Regions from separate parts of the Homo sapiens genome. Here region 1 is linked to region 2. Evidence: fine-mapped QTL for protein levels in blood plasma. A gene starts in region 2. The other region holds a variant in brackets. All regions are shown on one strand. Distances are between the middles of the regions.

Region 1 (8,275 bases), 17 kb before region 2:
TCACGCCACTGCACTCCAGCCTGGGCAAGAGAGCAAGACTCCGTCTCAAAAAAGAAAAAAAATTAGCCAGGTGTGGTGGTACACACCCATAATCCCAGCTACTCAGGAGGCTGAGGCAGGAGAATGGCATGAACCCGGGAGGCAGAGGTTACAGTGAGCTGAGAGCACACCACTGCAGTCCAGCTTGGGCGAAAAGAGCCAGACTCCATCTCAAAAAAAAAAAAAAATCACCAACATATTTTCTATCTCTGGTTTCTCAAAAACTAAGGATTACTTACCTTATTAAATCTTCACATACCCCTACTGAATCCCTGGGTAGATGCGTTCTCTCTGTTTACTAACCAAAATATTAAATATAATCATTGCAACTCTCTCTTATGTCTTCCAGTGGTCAGAAGTGTATCATAGCATTTCATATTTATCTTATCTTTGTAACCTGCATTTTTACCAGTTCAATATAATTTTCACATATTGATTGCTAAAGAGTGAAATGAAGGAATTAGGTTAAAATGTTTTTATTGGAAACTATCATGTCAAGTACCTTTTTTTTTTTTTTTTTTTTTGAGACAGAGCCTCACTCTGTCACCCAGGCTGGAGTGCAGTAGTGCGATCTCGGCTCACTGCAACCTCTGCCTCCCGGTCTCAAGCGATTCTCCCACCTCAGCCTCTCAAGTAGCTGGGACTACGGGAGTGTGCCACCTCACCCAAGGAATTTTTGTATTTTTCTTTTTTGTAGAGACAGGATTTCACCATGTTGCCCAATGTGGTGAAGTACTTTTAATGTGGAAATTTCCAATAGCCATATGAGTTTGGGCATATCTCAGAAAGTCAGCAAACAGTGAGATCAAGCAAAAAGACGGAGTAGAAAGCTCTGGGAGCCCCTCCCTCCAGTGAAATAAACAGTGAACTGAGGGGCAGGAGACACAGAATCAATGATTTCAGAACTAGTCATCCTGTTGCAGCACTTATAATAATGAGAGGAGTGCTTGATGAAAAGAGAGACTGAGACTTTAGAAAGAGAACAGCCTTCACAAACCAGCCCCCACTCCCCATTCCTCCGTCCGAGTGGGGCAATTTGGAGACAGTCCATTTTCCTCAAACAGGTGACCAGTGCCAGAGCAGGCAGTTGAGACCTTGGCCTCCAAAATTTGGGGAATTTGCACTCTACTAGGTCTGGCAATTCCTGAGAAGCCAATAAGATGCTTGTTTTGGCTCTCTTGAGTCCCTTCGTATCCCTCAGACTTAGAGGTTCGATGCCTTGTAAAATCTTTGTCATGTTACTAACTGACCACAAAATGGAAAAGACACTTCAGTGATCACACCCAAAGGATACACAGTTGCCAAAAAACAGTCGGGAAAAGTCAGAAATGAATAGTTTCAGCCTTCAGTAAGCAGAAATCAGCAATCCATGAAGACTTGGAGCATCGGAGTTCCAGACTTATGAATCATAATACTCAGGATGTCCAGTTGTAATTACAAAGCATAAAGACATAGGAAAGTATAACTCATTTACAATAAACCATGATTTAACATATACTGTTACTAGGGAAGCCCACACATTGAAACTATTAGTCAAAGACATTAAATCAACTGTCTCCAATGTGTTCAGTGAGATGAAGGAAAATATGGACAAAGAACTAAAGCAGATCATGAGAATGATATATGAAAGAAGTGAGAATGTCAATAGAAAGAAATAAATTATTAAAAATTCACAAACAGGAATTCTGGAGCTGAAAGTTACAATAATGGAGGTGATAATTCATTAGACGAATTCAAGAACAGATTTGAGTAGGTAGAAAAAAGATCAACAAACTTGAAGATAAGGCAACCATAAAGTTAGCAAATCCAAGAAGCAGGGGAAAAAAGTGAAGACAAATACACAGAGCCGGCCGGGTGCGGTGGGATGTTAACAATGGGATTGTTTGTGGAGCAGGGGGCTCTAGGGGTGTGTGGGAACTTTTTGTATTTTCTGCTCAATTTTGCTGCGAAACTAAAACTGCTCTAAAAAGACTTTTTTTTTTTTTTTTTTTTTTTGAGACGGAGCTTCACTCTTGTTGCCTAGGCTGGAGTGCAATGGAGCGATCTTGGCTTACCGCAACCTCCACCTCCCAGGTTCAAGCAATTCTCCTGCCTCAGCCTCCCAAGTTGCTGGGATTACAGGCATGAGCCACCACACCCATAAAAGCCTATTTTTTAAAAAGTTTTGACTAGTACCTTTTCCCCATTACACCTCTGTCCCACTCATCCTTTAAAATGTATTTTGACTGTGATATCAGCTGGGGCATGACTTCAGAGGAAAAGGTATTGTATAAAAGGAACTCTGGAGTCAAAATAAAGTTTGAGTTTTGAATTTTGGCTTTGCTTTATTTATTTATTTTTATTTATTTATTTATTTTTCTTTTTGAGACAGAGTCTCACTCTGTCACCTAGGCTGGAGTGCAGTGGCACGATCTCAGCTCACTGCAACCTCCGCCTCCTGGTTTCAAGTGATTCTCATGTCTTGGCCTCCCAAGTAGCTGGGATTACAGGCACCCGCCCCCATGCCTGGCTAATTTTTGTATTTTTAGTAGAGATAGGGTTTCACCATGTTGGCCAGGCTTGTCTCGAACTCCTGACCTCAAGTGATCAGCCTGCCTCAGCCTCCCAAAGTTTTGGGATTACAGGCGTGAGCTACCACGCCTGGCCAGCTTTTACCTTTAATAAGGTACTTAACCTTTTTAAAACCTAAGTTTTCTTATCATTGTTCACTGTGTCCTTTCATATACGTACGTTATGGAAATATCTATGGATTGTTTTTAAAATTCTAGTTGTTGCTGAAAATTCACAAAAGGCATCTCAAGATAATACTACTTATCTCCCAGGGCTGTTGGAATATTAACTGAGACCATTTTGTTGCTGTTGTTTTTGTTTGTTTTTTGAGACCATATTTATTTTTAAAATAAAAACAGAATGCAAGAAAGTTGGCCTGACACAAATGGGAACTCATCAAATGCAATCTCCAAGAGGGTAGGAACTTTGATTTCTGCACTATTGTATTAATACCTTGGAAACAGCAGGAACTCAGAAATATATGTTCAGTAATTTTAAAAAAAAAAAAAAGCTTGGCTAGGCTACTGAATGATCACAGACCACATGGAAAGAAAAAGAGGCTTGATGCCATTACAGGTGGGACTATGGAGTTCTCTCTTGGAGGGGTGACTGTATTTTGCAAGCAGGAAGGAGCATGAGCTGAGTTTCTGTGATCAAATGGGTGGGTTTTGATAGCGATTCGTGTTCTCCACCTAGTATTTTCAGCTTTCTTTCTGACTCTTGCAAGCATGCCACTTCCCTGCACCCACTAAAGTTAAGCAGGGTCACTGACACGCTTTGGTTAGTGAAAAGGGACTGGCAATGATGTGTATCCATCTGTGGTTTTCTACTTTACACTCCTAGCACAAGGGTCATGTCAAGATGAAAACCGTCTAGGCATGAGCCACAGCGCCTGGCTGGAACATCAGTTTTACTGCAAGATTTGGAAGAAACAAATTGAATTGATTACCAAGAGAATGTGCAAGAACTATTAAGTCTTAGGACACATGGCCAAGACCAAAAGTCTCTGGTGATGGGCTGGGGTGGGGCCCCGTCCCACAGCCCTCGGACCAAGTAAGAAGAAAAAGTAGGAGGGGGAGGTGGCTTATGCCTCTAATCCCTGCACTGTGGGATTAGCTGGGTGTGGTGCCTCATGCCTGTAATGTCAGCTACTCAGGAGGCTGAGGCAGGAGAATTGCATGAACCCAGGAGGTGGAGGTTGCAGAGAGCCAAGATTGTGCCACTGCACTCCAGCCTGGGCGACAGAGTGAGACTCCTACTAATAAATAAATAAAAGAAAAACTAAGTTAAAATTTGTAAGGGCATAAAACATAATTTTAATAGGAAGCTATGAGAATTATCTACACTTGCAGATAATTGAATGAGCTGAGTTATCTGATGATTGATTGAATGATCGAATTATAGGTAACTGTGATTTTTCTTTTTTTTTTTTGAGATGGAGTTTTGCTCTTGTCACCCAAACTAGAGTACAGTGGCAAGATCTCGGCTCACTGCAACCTCTGTCTCCCAGATTCAAGCGATTCTCCTGCCCGCCACCACGTCTGGCTAATTTTGGAATTTTTAGTAGAGATATGGTTTCACCATGTTGGCCAGGCTAGTCTC[G/A]AACCCCTGACCTCAGGTGATCCTCCCGCCTCGGCCTCCCGAAGTGCTGGGATTACTGGCATGAGCCACTGCGCCTGGCCTTTGCTACTTAATTTTATAAGACATCTACTTTTTCAAATATTTGCTGTTTTTGCTCTCATGATATGAAAATTTTTTTATTGTGAGGGAGCATTTCTATGAAAACAATAGTAGAAATTTGTGCCAATTTTGGTTATTAAAATAATAAAATTGTTGGGTTAGTTTGTTATTCTTAACCAAATGCTCCTACAGATAGCATATTGCACAGATGGTTTGATTGTTTTTTTTTCATCTTAGGTGAATTTTCCTTAATTTTATTCATCAAACTGTATTTACTTGAGATAAATAGACATTGTAGTTACTGTGTGCTCTACAGATCTCTACTTTTTTAAAAATAAAAATTCTCGGCCAGGCGCGGTGGCTCACGCGTGTAATCCCAGCAGTTTGGGAGGCTGAGGTGGGTGGATCAGAAGGTCAGGAGTTCAAGACCAACCTGGCAAAGATGGCAAAACCCCATCTCTACTAAAAACACAAAAAATTAGACAGGCGAGGTGGCGCAAGCCTGTAATCCCAGCTACTCGGGAGGCTGAGGCAGGAGAATCGCTTGAACCTGGGAGGCAGAGGTTGCGGTGAGCCAAGATTGCACCACTGCACTCCAGCCTGGGCAACAGGGCAAGACTCGGTCTCAAAAAAAAAAAAAAATTCTCAGTCAAAACTCTGACCTATTTTATAAAAATTTGGATTGTAAATACTACTTCGACGTAACTTATATGTACATTAATGATTAGTAAGTGGAGTAATTCTATTCTTTAAAGGGGGGAAGTCTATATGAGTGTATTAATTTGTCAAAATGGTACAGTTCAGATTGTACCTTTCAATATGTATACATTTTATCTAAAAAGAAAACCCAAAAAACTAATAAATTGGGGGGTAGGAAATGGGTCAAAGTATAGATGAAGCAAACATGGCATGACTAGTAGCTGTTCAACCTGGGTGACAAGTCTATTATACTATCTTTGTATTCTGTATATATTTTTGTTTTTTGAGATGAAGTCTGGCTCTCGTCACCCAGGCTGGAGTGCAGTGGCATGATCTCAGCTCATTGCAACCTCCGCCTCCCAGGTCCAAGCAATTCTCAAGCCTCAGCCTCCTGAGTAGCTGGGACTGCAATTGCACATGACCACGCCTGGCTAATTTTTGAATTTTTAGTAGAGAGGGAGTTTCACCATGTTGGCCAGGCTGGTCTCGAACTCCTGACCTCAGGTGATCTGCCCGCCTCGGACTCCCAAAGTTCTGGGATTACAGGCGTGAGCCACTGTACCTGGCCTGTATTTTGTGTAGGTTTTTAATGTTTGGTGACAAAACACTTGTTGAAAATGAAAAAAAAAAAATTAGTCGGGCATGGTGCCGTGCACCTGTGGTCCCAGCTATTTGGGGGACTAAATAGGAGGATTACTTGAACCCAGGAAGCAGAAGTTGCATTAAGCCGAGATTGTGCTACGGCTCTGCACCCTGAACAACAGAGTGAGGCCCTGTCTCAACAAAAAAAAAAAAAAAAAAGGAAGAAGCCTATTTCAGCCTACCATGGGCAGAACCCCTTGCTGATCTGAATGTTGTGTGAGTAGAAAATAAACTTTTTTTTTAAGTGAAATAAGTTTAGTAAGAAAGTAAAGGAATAGGCCAGGAGTGTTAGCCTCACAGCTGTAATCCCAGCACTTTGGGAGGCCAAGGGGGGCAGATCACCTGAGGTCAGGAGATCGAGACCAGCCTGGCCAAAATGGTGAAACCCCATGTCTACTAAAAATACAAACAATTAGCCGGGTGTGGTGGCAGGCACCTGTAATCTCTGCTACTCTGGTGGCTGAGGCAGGAGAATCACTTGAGCCCAGGAGGCAAAGGTTGCAGTGAGCTGAGATCGCGCCATTGAACTCCAGCCTGGGCAACAAGAGCAAAACTCCGTCTCAAACAAACAAACAAACAAACAAACACAAAACAGAAAGTAAAGGAGTAAAGAATGGCCACTCCATAGGCAGAGCAGCCCTAAATACACCTTTATTGTGTAAAGTCTGGCCAGGGGTGGTGGCTCACGCCTGGAATCCCAACAATTTGGAAGGCCAAGGTGGGAGTATCACTTGAGGCCAAGAGTTCAGGACCAGCCTGAGCAACATAGCAAGAGCCCATCTCTCCAAAAACTTTTAAAATTAGCTGAATGTGAGGCCGGGCGCGGTGGCTCACGCCTATAATCCCAGCACTTTGAGAGGCCAAGGCAGGCGGATCACGAGGTCAGGAGATCGAGACCATCCTGGCTAACACAGTGAAACCCCGTCTCTACTAAAAACACAAAAAAATTAGCCGGGCGAGGTGGCGGGCACCTGTGGTTCCAGCTACTCGGAAGGCTGAGGCAGGAGAACGGCGTGAACCCGGGAGGCGGAGCTGGCAGTGAGCCGACATTGCACCACTGCACTCTAGCCTGGGCAACATAGCAAGACTCCAACTCAAAAAAAAAAAATAGCTGAGTGTGGTGGTGCATGCCTGTAGTCCCACCTTCTCAGGAAGCTGAGACAGGAGGATCACTCAAGCCCAGGAACTGGAGGCTGCAGGGAGCTATGATTGCACCACTGCTCTCCAGCCTGGGCGACAGAGTAAGACCCTGTCTCCAAAAGCAGTAATAATAATAAATAAATAATAATAAGAGGCCGGGCGCAGTAGCTCACACCTGTAATCCCAGCACTGTGGGAGGCCAAGGCGGGCACATTATTTGAGGTCAGGAGTTTGAGACCAGCCTGGCCAACATGGTGAAACCCTGTCTCTACTAAAAATACAAAAAAATTAGCTGGGCATAATGGCAGGCTCCTGTAGTCCCAGCTACTTGGGAGGCTGAGGCATGAGAATCACTTGACCCTGGGAGGCGGAGGTTGCAGTGAGCCCAGGCCACTGCACTCCAGCCTGGGCAACAGAGTGAGTCTCTTTCTCAGATTAATAATAGCAACAGTCGTAGTGATACAGGAGGTAGAAAGAAATTATTTAGGCAGATAGTGAAGGCAGCAGAGTCCTCGGCAGAGCTTCCCTTCTAACAAAAAGCAGCCCCCAAATCATTTCTTTTCTAACAAGCAGCAGCCTGAAAAATTGAGCTGCAAACATAGATAGGCACAGCTGGAAGCTTACACGGGAGAATGCCGGCAGGTGCGCCAATAGAAGAGAGCTACCCAGGGGCCAGGCAGGCCCTACATGGACGCTTCCTCTTCCCTTTTATGTTACCACGCGTGCAGTAACAGAAATGGGCAACATGGCGCAGCTCGGGCAGAGAACCTGCCTGCATAATAAAAGATTAGGGTCAGAGGCTACCAGAAATTTGCACCCTATGCAAATGCGACACATGGTCTAACCAGTTTTTCACACCCTATATAAATCAAACACCGTTTGCTCACTAGCTTCTCTATAAAACCCCCTACATTTCCCCGCTGATACGGCAACCCATTTTTCCGGGACCCCTCTCTGCAGCAGAGAGCTCTCCTCTTTCTTTCGCCTATGAAACTTCCATTCTCGACCTCACTCTTTCTATGTCTATGTCCTTGTTTTCCTTGGCTGTGAGACTGTGAACCTCGGGTGTTACTCCAGACAAGGAGGCCGTTTCAGTAGTAGCAATGATAGTAATAGTTCTCACCAGTTCCTTACTACGTACTGGCTCTTTGCTAAACAGTTTACAAATATTAATTCCTTCCAACCTCATAGCAAGCCTGTGAGATACTTTTATTACTTCCAGGGAACTGAGGCACAGAGAGGTTAAATCACTTGCTGCAGGTCACACAGCTGGTAAGTGTTGGAGCCAGAATGCAAATTTGGGCTGCAAGACCAGAATGAAGGTGGAAAAAAATGAAGCAGATTGTAGAAGTGTAGGGTTGGATCTGATCTTTAAAACATCTTTGCAATTTGTTCATCATGAATTTTTTTGACCTTCACTTTTTAGATTTTTTTTAAAATGTTGCCTGAGAATATCATTTATTTTGACAATGACAGTTTGAGATGCCCCCTTGAAATTTGCACTTGAGGCACAAAATTCTGTTAC
Region 2 (8,328 bases):
TGAAACCCCATCTCTACTAAAAATACAAAAATTAGCCAGGCGTGGTGGTGGGCACCTGTAATCCCAGCTACTCAGGAGGATGAGGCAGGAGAATTGCTTGAACCTGGGAGGCGGAGATTGCAGTGAGCCGAGATGGCGCCACTGCACTCCAAGCTGGGCGACAGAGGGAGACACGATCTTAAAAAAAAAAAGAGAGAGAGAGAGAGAAAGAAAAATTGTGTTTCACGGAGCTTTCAATTTCCAATTTTCTTGTGGTGAACGAGATTCAGTTTCATAAGCAGTTGTATTTTTTTTATTTATTTATTTTTTTAAGACAGACTCTCTCTCTGTCTCTCAGGCTGGAGTGCAGTGGCCAGATCTCAGCTCACGACAACCTCCGCCTCCCGGGTTCAGGCGATTCTCCTGACTCAGCCTCCCGAGATAGCTGGGACTACAGGTGTCCGCCACCACGCCCAGCTAATTTTTGTATTTTTAGTAGAGACGGGGTTTCACCATATTGGCCAGGCTGGGCTTGAACTCCTGACCTTGTGATCCGCCCGCCTCGGCCTCCCAAAGTGCTGAGATTACAGGTGTGAGCCACTGCGCCCGGCCAAGCAGTTGTATTTATTTTTATGAGTTGGCTGCTCCTGTCTCATTTTGGGATTTTCCTAAGACACCTCGGCCTCCCAAAGTGCTGAGATTACATGTATGAGCCACCCCACCCCATCTCTCTTTCCCCCATCTTTTAGAAGGTATTAGTTATTTCTTAATGATATGAATCTAAACTATTTATATCTTAAGCTGATAAAAAGATCAGCTAAGTAAATATTAAATAAATTAAGGTAGGAGATTGTCTTGAAGGTGCTGTCTACCCGCTTCCCCCAGACCTGGAGTCCTAGGGCTTCCGTGAAGGAAATCCCTTTAGTACTTGGGGATCTCAGGGAGGATATTTTGATTTCTGGATACCTCAAAATTCTGGACCTCTTTGACCACCCTCTTCACCCACCCAGCAAATGCTATAGGCTCAGGCTCTGAAATCTCCCATTTTTATCTCCTTTCAATTTTTTGCTTTTTGTTGGTAATTTTGCTGTTTCAAACAGCCCCCAAATAGTGCTGAAGCCCTGTCTAATGTCCCCCAAGAGCAAGGAGGCCGTGATGAGCCTCACAGAGGAGGAAATCCACGTGTTAGAGAAGCTATCCCCAGGCACGAGTTCTAGCGCTGTTGGCTGTGAGTTTGCTGCTGATGACACTGACTTCTTGATGATTCATAGCCAGAGGCCCTTGGGACCCTAACTGTATGTATATACAGACATATTTTTCTTTCCATTTGAGAGCAGGTAATGTTTATTGAACAGCTTAGAAAAATAATTATAGTACACACCATAGTTCATTCTTCTAACAAGCCTGTTGATCTGGTCCTCCCTGTTGCCAGCATCTCCACCTTCCACGAAATGGGTGGTCTGTTTCTTCATTCTGCCTCATGGAGAAGATACTTTGAAGGACCACAGGAAGTTATGTGCTTCTTTGAAGCGTTTTCCAACAGTATGGACCTCATGAATCACATCCTCCATACAGATGATGCCATATTTTCCAAGAGATCGTGCAAAGCGTTATCTGTCAAAGCAATTCGTTTCTTATTGATTTTGCCATAACCACGCTTGTAGATTAGTTTATTTACTGACTTCAGATTTAGGTACCCGCATGCAATGTATGGCTCTACAATCCTCAGCATGTTAATTGGCCTTCACAAAGGTTCCATTGAAGATTTGACAAAGGCAAAGAAGCTGCAACACATTTCGGACCTTTGGGCTCACACCATCGATACCTCTGATCCTGATGACAAACGCCAGTCTGGATTCTGCAGGTTCATAGAAGTTGCCAGCTTTTCTTGACATCTTTTCCATTCGAATTTCAGTTCTGTACCTCTGCCTATATTCCTTGTGATAGTGCTTCAATTTTTCATAGATAAGCTTCCTCCTTGCCTTTCGAAGCATCTTTTGGGCAAACTTCTTTCTCAGGCGCTTGGTCTTCAGCTCTGTGAAATTCCTTCGCTTTTTCTTAGGGGTTTCTGGCACAGCGGGAACTTCCTTCTTCTTCTCTTCTACACCCTCCATGGTTCCAGCCGGAAAAAGAGGCTGGATCCTCTTTTTAAAAAATATATATATTTTTAAGACAGAGTCTCGCTCTGTCACCCAGGCTGGAGTGCAATGGTGTGATCTCGGCTCACTGCAACCTCTGCCTCCCGGGTTTGAGCGATTCTCCTGCCTCAGCTTCCTGAGTAGCTGGGATTAAAGGTGCCCACCACCACACCCAGCTATTTTTTGAATTTTTAGTAGAGATGGGGTTCCACCATGTTGGCCAGGCTGGTCTCCAACTCTTTTTTTTTTTTTTTTGAGACGGAGTCTCACTCTGTCACCCAGGCTGGAGTTCAGTGGCGTGATCTCGGCTCACTGCAAGCTCCACCTCCCGGGTTCACGCCATTCTCCTGCCTCAGCCTCCTGAGTAGCTGGGACTACAGGCGCCCGCCACCATGCCCGGCTAATTTTTTGTATTTTTAGTAGAGACGGGGGTTTCACCGTGTTAGCCAGGAGGGTCTCAAACTCCTGATATCAAGTGATCCGCCTGCCTCAGCCTCCCAAAGTGCTGGGATTACAGGCGTGAGCCACTGCGCCTGGCTCCTTCTTGGTGTTTCTTGACTTTCATCTGCCTCATTCAGTTTCTGTTTCTGTTTTCACACGGCTCCTTCTCTATGAGCCTCTTTTCTCTCCACCTGAGGGCCCACTCTAATCCAGTATGACCTCATTTAAGCCTAATTATATCTGCAAAAAAAACCCCGTAATTTCAAAATGAGGTCATATTCTGCAGTTCCAGGAGGCCATGAATTCTGGGAGGACACCGTTAACCCACTACAGCCATCGAGAACAGCAGCAGGAGGCTGGATGCGGTGGCTCACACCTGTCATCCCGGCACTTTGGGGGACCTACGCAGCAGGATCGCTTGAGCCCAGATGTTTGAGACCAGCCTGGTAACATAGTAACACCCTATCCTCTACCCCCCCCAAAAAAAAAATTAGCCGGGCATGGTAGCGTGTGCTGGTAGACCCAACTATGCAAAAGGCTGAGATGGGAGGGTCACTGAAGCCCAGGAGTTTGAGGCTGCTGTGAGCTGTGTGGCGCCACTGCATCCAGCCTGGGCAACAGAGCAACACTCTGTCTCTAAAAATATTAATTTAGGCCGGGCGCGGCGGCTCACGCCTGTAATCCCAGCACTTTGGGAGGCCAAGGCGGGCAGATCACGAGGTCAGGAGATGGAGACCATCCTCGCTAACATGGTGAAAACCCATCTCTACTAAAAATACAAAAAGTTAGCCGGGCGTGGTGGCGGGCGCCTGTAGTCCCAGCTACTTGAGAGGCTGAGGCAGGAGAATGGCGTGAACCCGGGAGGCGGAGCTTGCAGTGAGCCGAGATGGCGCCACTGCACTCCAGCCTGGGCGACAGAGCGAGACTCTGTCTCAAAAAAAAAAAAAATAAATAATAAAATAAAATAAAAATAAAAAATAAAAATATTAACTTAATTTAACTTTAAACAAAAAAGCAGGTGGTCTCCAAGAATGCAGGAGATAACTGACCGGGTGCAGTGTCTCATGCCTTTAATCCCAGCACTTTGGAAGGCCAAGGCGGGTGGATCACCCAAGGTCAGGAGTTCAAGTCCAGCCTGGCCAACATGGTGAAACCCCATCTCTACTAAAAATACAAAAAATTAGCCAGGCATGGTGGCGCGCGCATGTTACTCCCAGCTACTCGCGAGGCTCAGACAGGAGAATCGCTTGAACCCAGGAGATCGAGGTTGCGGCGAGCTGAGATGGCGCCACTGCACTCCAGCCTGGGTGACAGAGGGAGACCTCCGTCTCAAAAACAAAACAAATCAAAAAAATGCAGGAGAGGGGTACACGAATATTTGGGGAGCACCCCCAATTCTTGGATGTCTGCTGTATCCCCAGTGCACAGCACAATCTAATCCCTAATAAATGTGCAGTGGAGGTTTGTTGAATAAATGAATGGGCCCCAGAAGAATGAGGTGGAGAGGGGAATAGGAAGATTGAATGTCTCCTGCCTGAAGGTCGGGCGGGGAGGGGTTGGGGGCAGGCAACTCTGAGGCTCACCCGGGGCCACTGCCTGCATCCTGGCAACTGCCTCCACCCACTTTAGGATCTTCAGACTGGCAGCGGTTGGAGGGAATTTCCCCTCGCCAATTGCTCAAGTCCCTCCCCTCGACCGGCCGGACATCCCCAGAGAGGGGCAGGCTGGTCCCCTGACAGGTTGAAGCAAGTAGACGCCCAGGAGCCCCGGGAGGGGGCTGCAGTTTCCTTCCTTCCTTCTCGGCAGCGCTCCGCGCCCCCATCGCCCCTCCTGCGCTAGCGGAGGTGATCGCCGCGGCGATGCCGGAGGAGGGTTCGGGCTGCTCGGTGCGGCGCAGGCCCTATGGGTGCGTCCTGCGGGCTGCTTTGGTCCCATTGGTCGCGGGCTTGGTGATCTGCCTCGTGGTGTGCATCCAGCGCTTCGCACAGGCTCAGCAGCAGCTGCCGCTCGAGTCACTTGGGGTGAGTTGAGATGGAAAAGTTGGGAAGAAAACATAGAGAGGCGCGTGACCGAAAAGACAGAATGAGATGGGTACAAAGAGGCCAGAGAGGAAGATCTGGTAGGGCAGAGACAGAGACCAGAACAGGGAGGCGAGGCGGGGACCAGGCTGCCCGGTGTAGGGGCTACGAGACAGGCAGCCCTGCCAGGAGGTACAGGGAGATCCCGGGATGGGAAAGGTAGGCACACATGGAAATGGAAGATGACTCGGCTCTGGTGTTCCCCCGGCAGGCTGACTCAGAGGCTGCTGGGGGCTTCACAAGGCTGGGCGTGGGGGCTTCCTGGGGCCTCCTAGGACGGGATGGCCCCAGCCACTCGCTCCGGGTGGGGGAGGGGTCCCTTTGGGGACCGCGCCGGGCGCCTTTGCAGCGTAGAGAGTCCGCTGCGCGCGGTGCTCTCGCGCCCAGTGACATCCAGGAAAACGATTCGGGAAACGAAGAAGTTCTTTTGAAGGTCTCGACTTCACGTTCCCCGCTGGTTCAGACCTGCTTCCTCTTTAAGAAGTCTTAAGAGTAAAAAAAAATAAAATGAAATAAAATCACCAGTGCGCGCCGTGGGATGAGAGGTGGAAAGGAGGATGGACAGAGAAAAGAGAGCTCCTGGCACAGGGGACACATAGAACCTCTCTGCTTACGTCCGTGCCCTGTTTTCTGGTCTTTTCTTCCAGTGGGACGTAGCTGAGCTGCAGCTGAATCACACAGGTAACACGGGGGACGTGGAGGGACGGGGAGAAGAAGAGGCACAGAGAGAGAAGGAAGGAGAGGTAGAAAGACAAGTGGGGAGAGACAGAGAGAAAGAGACACAGACAGAGACGGAGGGAGAGAGGGAGGGAGAGATAGGGAGGGAAACGGAGAGGGGGAGACAGAGAGAAGACAGAGAGGGAGGGAGAGGCCCAGAGAAAGGGAGGGAGAGACAGAAAAAAGAACAGAGAGAGGGACAGAGGGGACAGACGGGACAGGAGAAGAAGGGGAAAGAAAGAAACAGGGAGAGACGCAGGGAGAGTGGAAGAGGGAGGGAGGGAGACAGGCGGGGGAGACAGAACGAGAGAGAGGGAGAGAGACGGAGAAAGAGAAAAAAGACAGATAGAGGAAGAGAGAATAAAAACGAGAGAGGCGACCTGGCGTGGTTGCTGGAGCCTGTAATCCCAGCGCTTTCGGAGGGCGCGGCGGGTGGATCACTTGAGCCCAGGAGTTTGAGACCAGCCTGGCCAACATGGTGAAACCCCGTCTCTACTAAAATTACAAAAATTAGCCGGGTGTGGTGGCAGGCACCTGTAATCCCAGCTACTCAGGAGGCCGAGGCAGGAGAATCGCCTGAACCTGGGAGGCAGAAGTTGCAGTGAGCCAAGATAATGGCACTGCTCTCCAGCCTGGGTGACAGAGGGAGATTCTGTCAAATAAATAAATAAAAAGAAGAAAGGAAAAGAAAAAGAAAGAAAGGAAGGAAGGAAAAGAAAGAGAAGAAGGAAGGAAGGAGAGAGGGAGGGAGGTGAGAGAGAGAGAAAGGAAAAAGAAAGAAGAAAGAGAAAAAAAGAAATAAGAGAAAGAAAAGAAAGAAAGCCAGAGAGAGGAAAAGAGAAGGAGAATAACAGAGAGGAAGAGACAGAGACAGAGAGGGGGAAGAAGAAAAACAGGGCGGGGGAGAAAGAGATCATTCCCAAGAGAAAAAGGAAAAGGGAGAGAACGAGAGAGAGAGAGAGGAGAGAGAGAGCGAGCAGGTTTGTGTTTCTGGGCATCCACTACCTTTCTCTCCCTTTCCCTCTCAGTCCTTCACATTCGATCTCCTCCCTTGGAAGAATCAAAGGGGTTTTGTTAGTAAACGAAAACGCTCACAGGAAAGGCTACCCTTCCTCCATTCATGCTACAAGCACTAATTATACATCTGCAGTGGGCAGGCACTGTTCCGGTACTGCAGTCGCGCACAAAACAGACAGAAATCCCTGCCTGGTGAGCTTCCCTTCTACTATCACTCCTACCGAGGAGGAGATGACCAAAAAAATAAAAACGAACATGTGAAAAACAGAGCAATGCCACGTAGAGTAAAACAGGCCAAGAGCAGGTTTTAGAGAAAAAATCAGGCAAGGAGGTGGGTGGGGAATCCGGGCATGCCAGGGTTGGGGATTTTCATTTAAAGTGGAGTCGCGGCGGTCGGGTGGGGGGGTGGTATCTGAGTGGGTGGCATTGGCAAGAAGCCTTGAGGGAGAAGAAATGAACAGTTCTGCTCTAGGTGGAAGTCTCTACCTCCTCCCAGCCTCTCTCGAACGCTTCTTCCTCTTCTGTTTTTCCACGGTTCATCCCCAGAGACTAAAATTACTGCACGCTTGCGTGTTTTGTTCCTTCCATTTTGTAATGGAAGGGACCTTTGTTGCTCTCTCTTCTCCTTGGGTCTCTGACCCCTGATATATCTTCCCCCCCTCCCCGGCCTTTGCCATATTTTTCCTGTAATTTGGTCTTGAGGCCCCTTTCTGGAGAGTGGCTGTCCAGCCCCACATCGATGGGGCACCAGGGGTGGTGGCCACAGGTGTTGACAGTGTCTTTCACAGGACAGCTCTTTCTTCTGGTGGATGATATCATGCCTAAGTGTGTGACAGGGGACCAGGTGTCACTCTTACAGGAAATTTGCAAAGCCTGGTAAACACCCTTGGGGCTCCTGTTTGACCCCGTTCAGTTCCTTCCTAACAAGATAGCCAGTCTCCAGGAGAGCCTTGAGTGAGGAGGAGAGTGAGGCTCAGGTGTGTCAGTCAGATAAGTTGCGGAGACAGGAGACGCTGAGATGAAACACGTGAAATATAGCCGAGGACCTTGGCTCCCGGCTGTGATCCCAGCGCTTTGGGAGGCTGAGGTGGGAGGATCGCTTGAGCCCAGGAGTTCTAGACTATGTTTCTTGGGAAACATAGCAAGACCACCATCTCTAGAACAAAATTTTGAAAATTAGCTGGTCATGGTGGCGCATGCCACCTCCCAGTGACTCGGGAGGCTGAGGTGGGAGATAGCTTGAGCCCCAGAGGCTGAGGCTGCAGTGAGCTATGATTGCACCACTGCACTCCAGCCTGGGTGACAGGACCAGACCCTGTCTCTAAAGAAAATAAAGATCCTAGAGAGAAGAGGGCCAACGGGAAGGTAGGGGAGCTCTCTGAGACACACACTCAACCAGCGGGTGGAAAGCAAGAAAAAAAAAGGGTCCTGGGAGCCAAAGCTTTTATTGGCGTTCAGGGTGTGACCCGAGCAGGCGTCCCTTGGGGAATTCTCTCGTGCACTCTCTTGCGCGCTGTCTCGTGCGCACGCTGTCTCTCTCGTGCTGTCTGTCTCACTCTCTCAGGCACTCTCTCGCTCACTCCCGTGCACTCTCGAGCTCTGTAGCTCTCATCCTCTCTCACACACACACTCTCCCATGCACTCTCTCGAGCTCACTCTCACACTCTGTCTCGTGCACTCTCTCTCAAGCTCTCTCGTCCTCTCTCACACACACACTCTCTCTCTTGCTCTCTCTCTCATGCTGTCTCTCGTACTCTCTCCTGCTCTCTCGTGCTCTCTCTCACTCTCTCGTGCACTCTCCCTCAAGCTCTCTCGTCCTCTCTCTCACACTCTCTCGCTGTCTCATGCTCTCTCTCCCTCATGATCTCTCTCTCTCTCATGCTGTCTCTTGCACTCTCTCCTGCTCTCTCGTGCTCTCTCGCACTCTCTCGTGCACTCTCCCTCAAGCTCTCTCGTCC

Which allele goes with the higher level. Alleles are on the strand shown, and positions count from the first base shown. The strength of an association depends on the size of the effect and on how common the allele is.
For the plasma level of the protein whose gene starts at base 4,270 in region 2, A is the high allele of the variant in region 1 and G is the other (moderate association).

The links. PIP is the posterior inclusion probability: the model's chance that the variant is causal. Protein levels are from antibody-based Olink assays in UK Biobank. Linkage for the fine-mapping came from a reference panel and not from the study's own genotypes, which makes the PIPs less certain.
Region 1: its variant is fine-mapped to the plasma level of the CD70 protein (UK Biobank, PIP 0.93).

Annotation. Positions count from the first base shown.
Region 1 is chr19:6,604,279-6,612,553 of GRCh38, reverse strand. No RefSeq gene overlaps it. Among named protein-coding and RNA genes, the nearest start is that of CD70, 17 kb to the right of the region's middle. RefSeq lists an enhancer at 3,437-3,546. The variant G/A (reference allele first, on the strand shown) is at 4,192.
Region 2 is chr19:6,587,092-6,595,419 of GRCh38, reverse strand. It overlaps CD70 (CD70 molecule), which reads left to right and starts at 4,270. Exons shown (of 3, transcript NM_001252.5): 1 at 4,270-4,579; 2 at 5,284-5,317. The coding sequence starts at 4,418. It also overlaps the pseudogene RPL7P50. RefSeq lists enhancers at 2,451-2,550, 2,571-3,030, 4,101-4,500, 5,001-5,370, 6,549-6,628 and 2 more.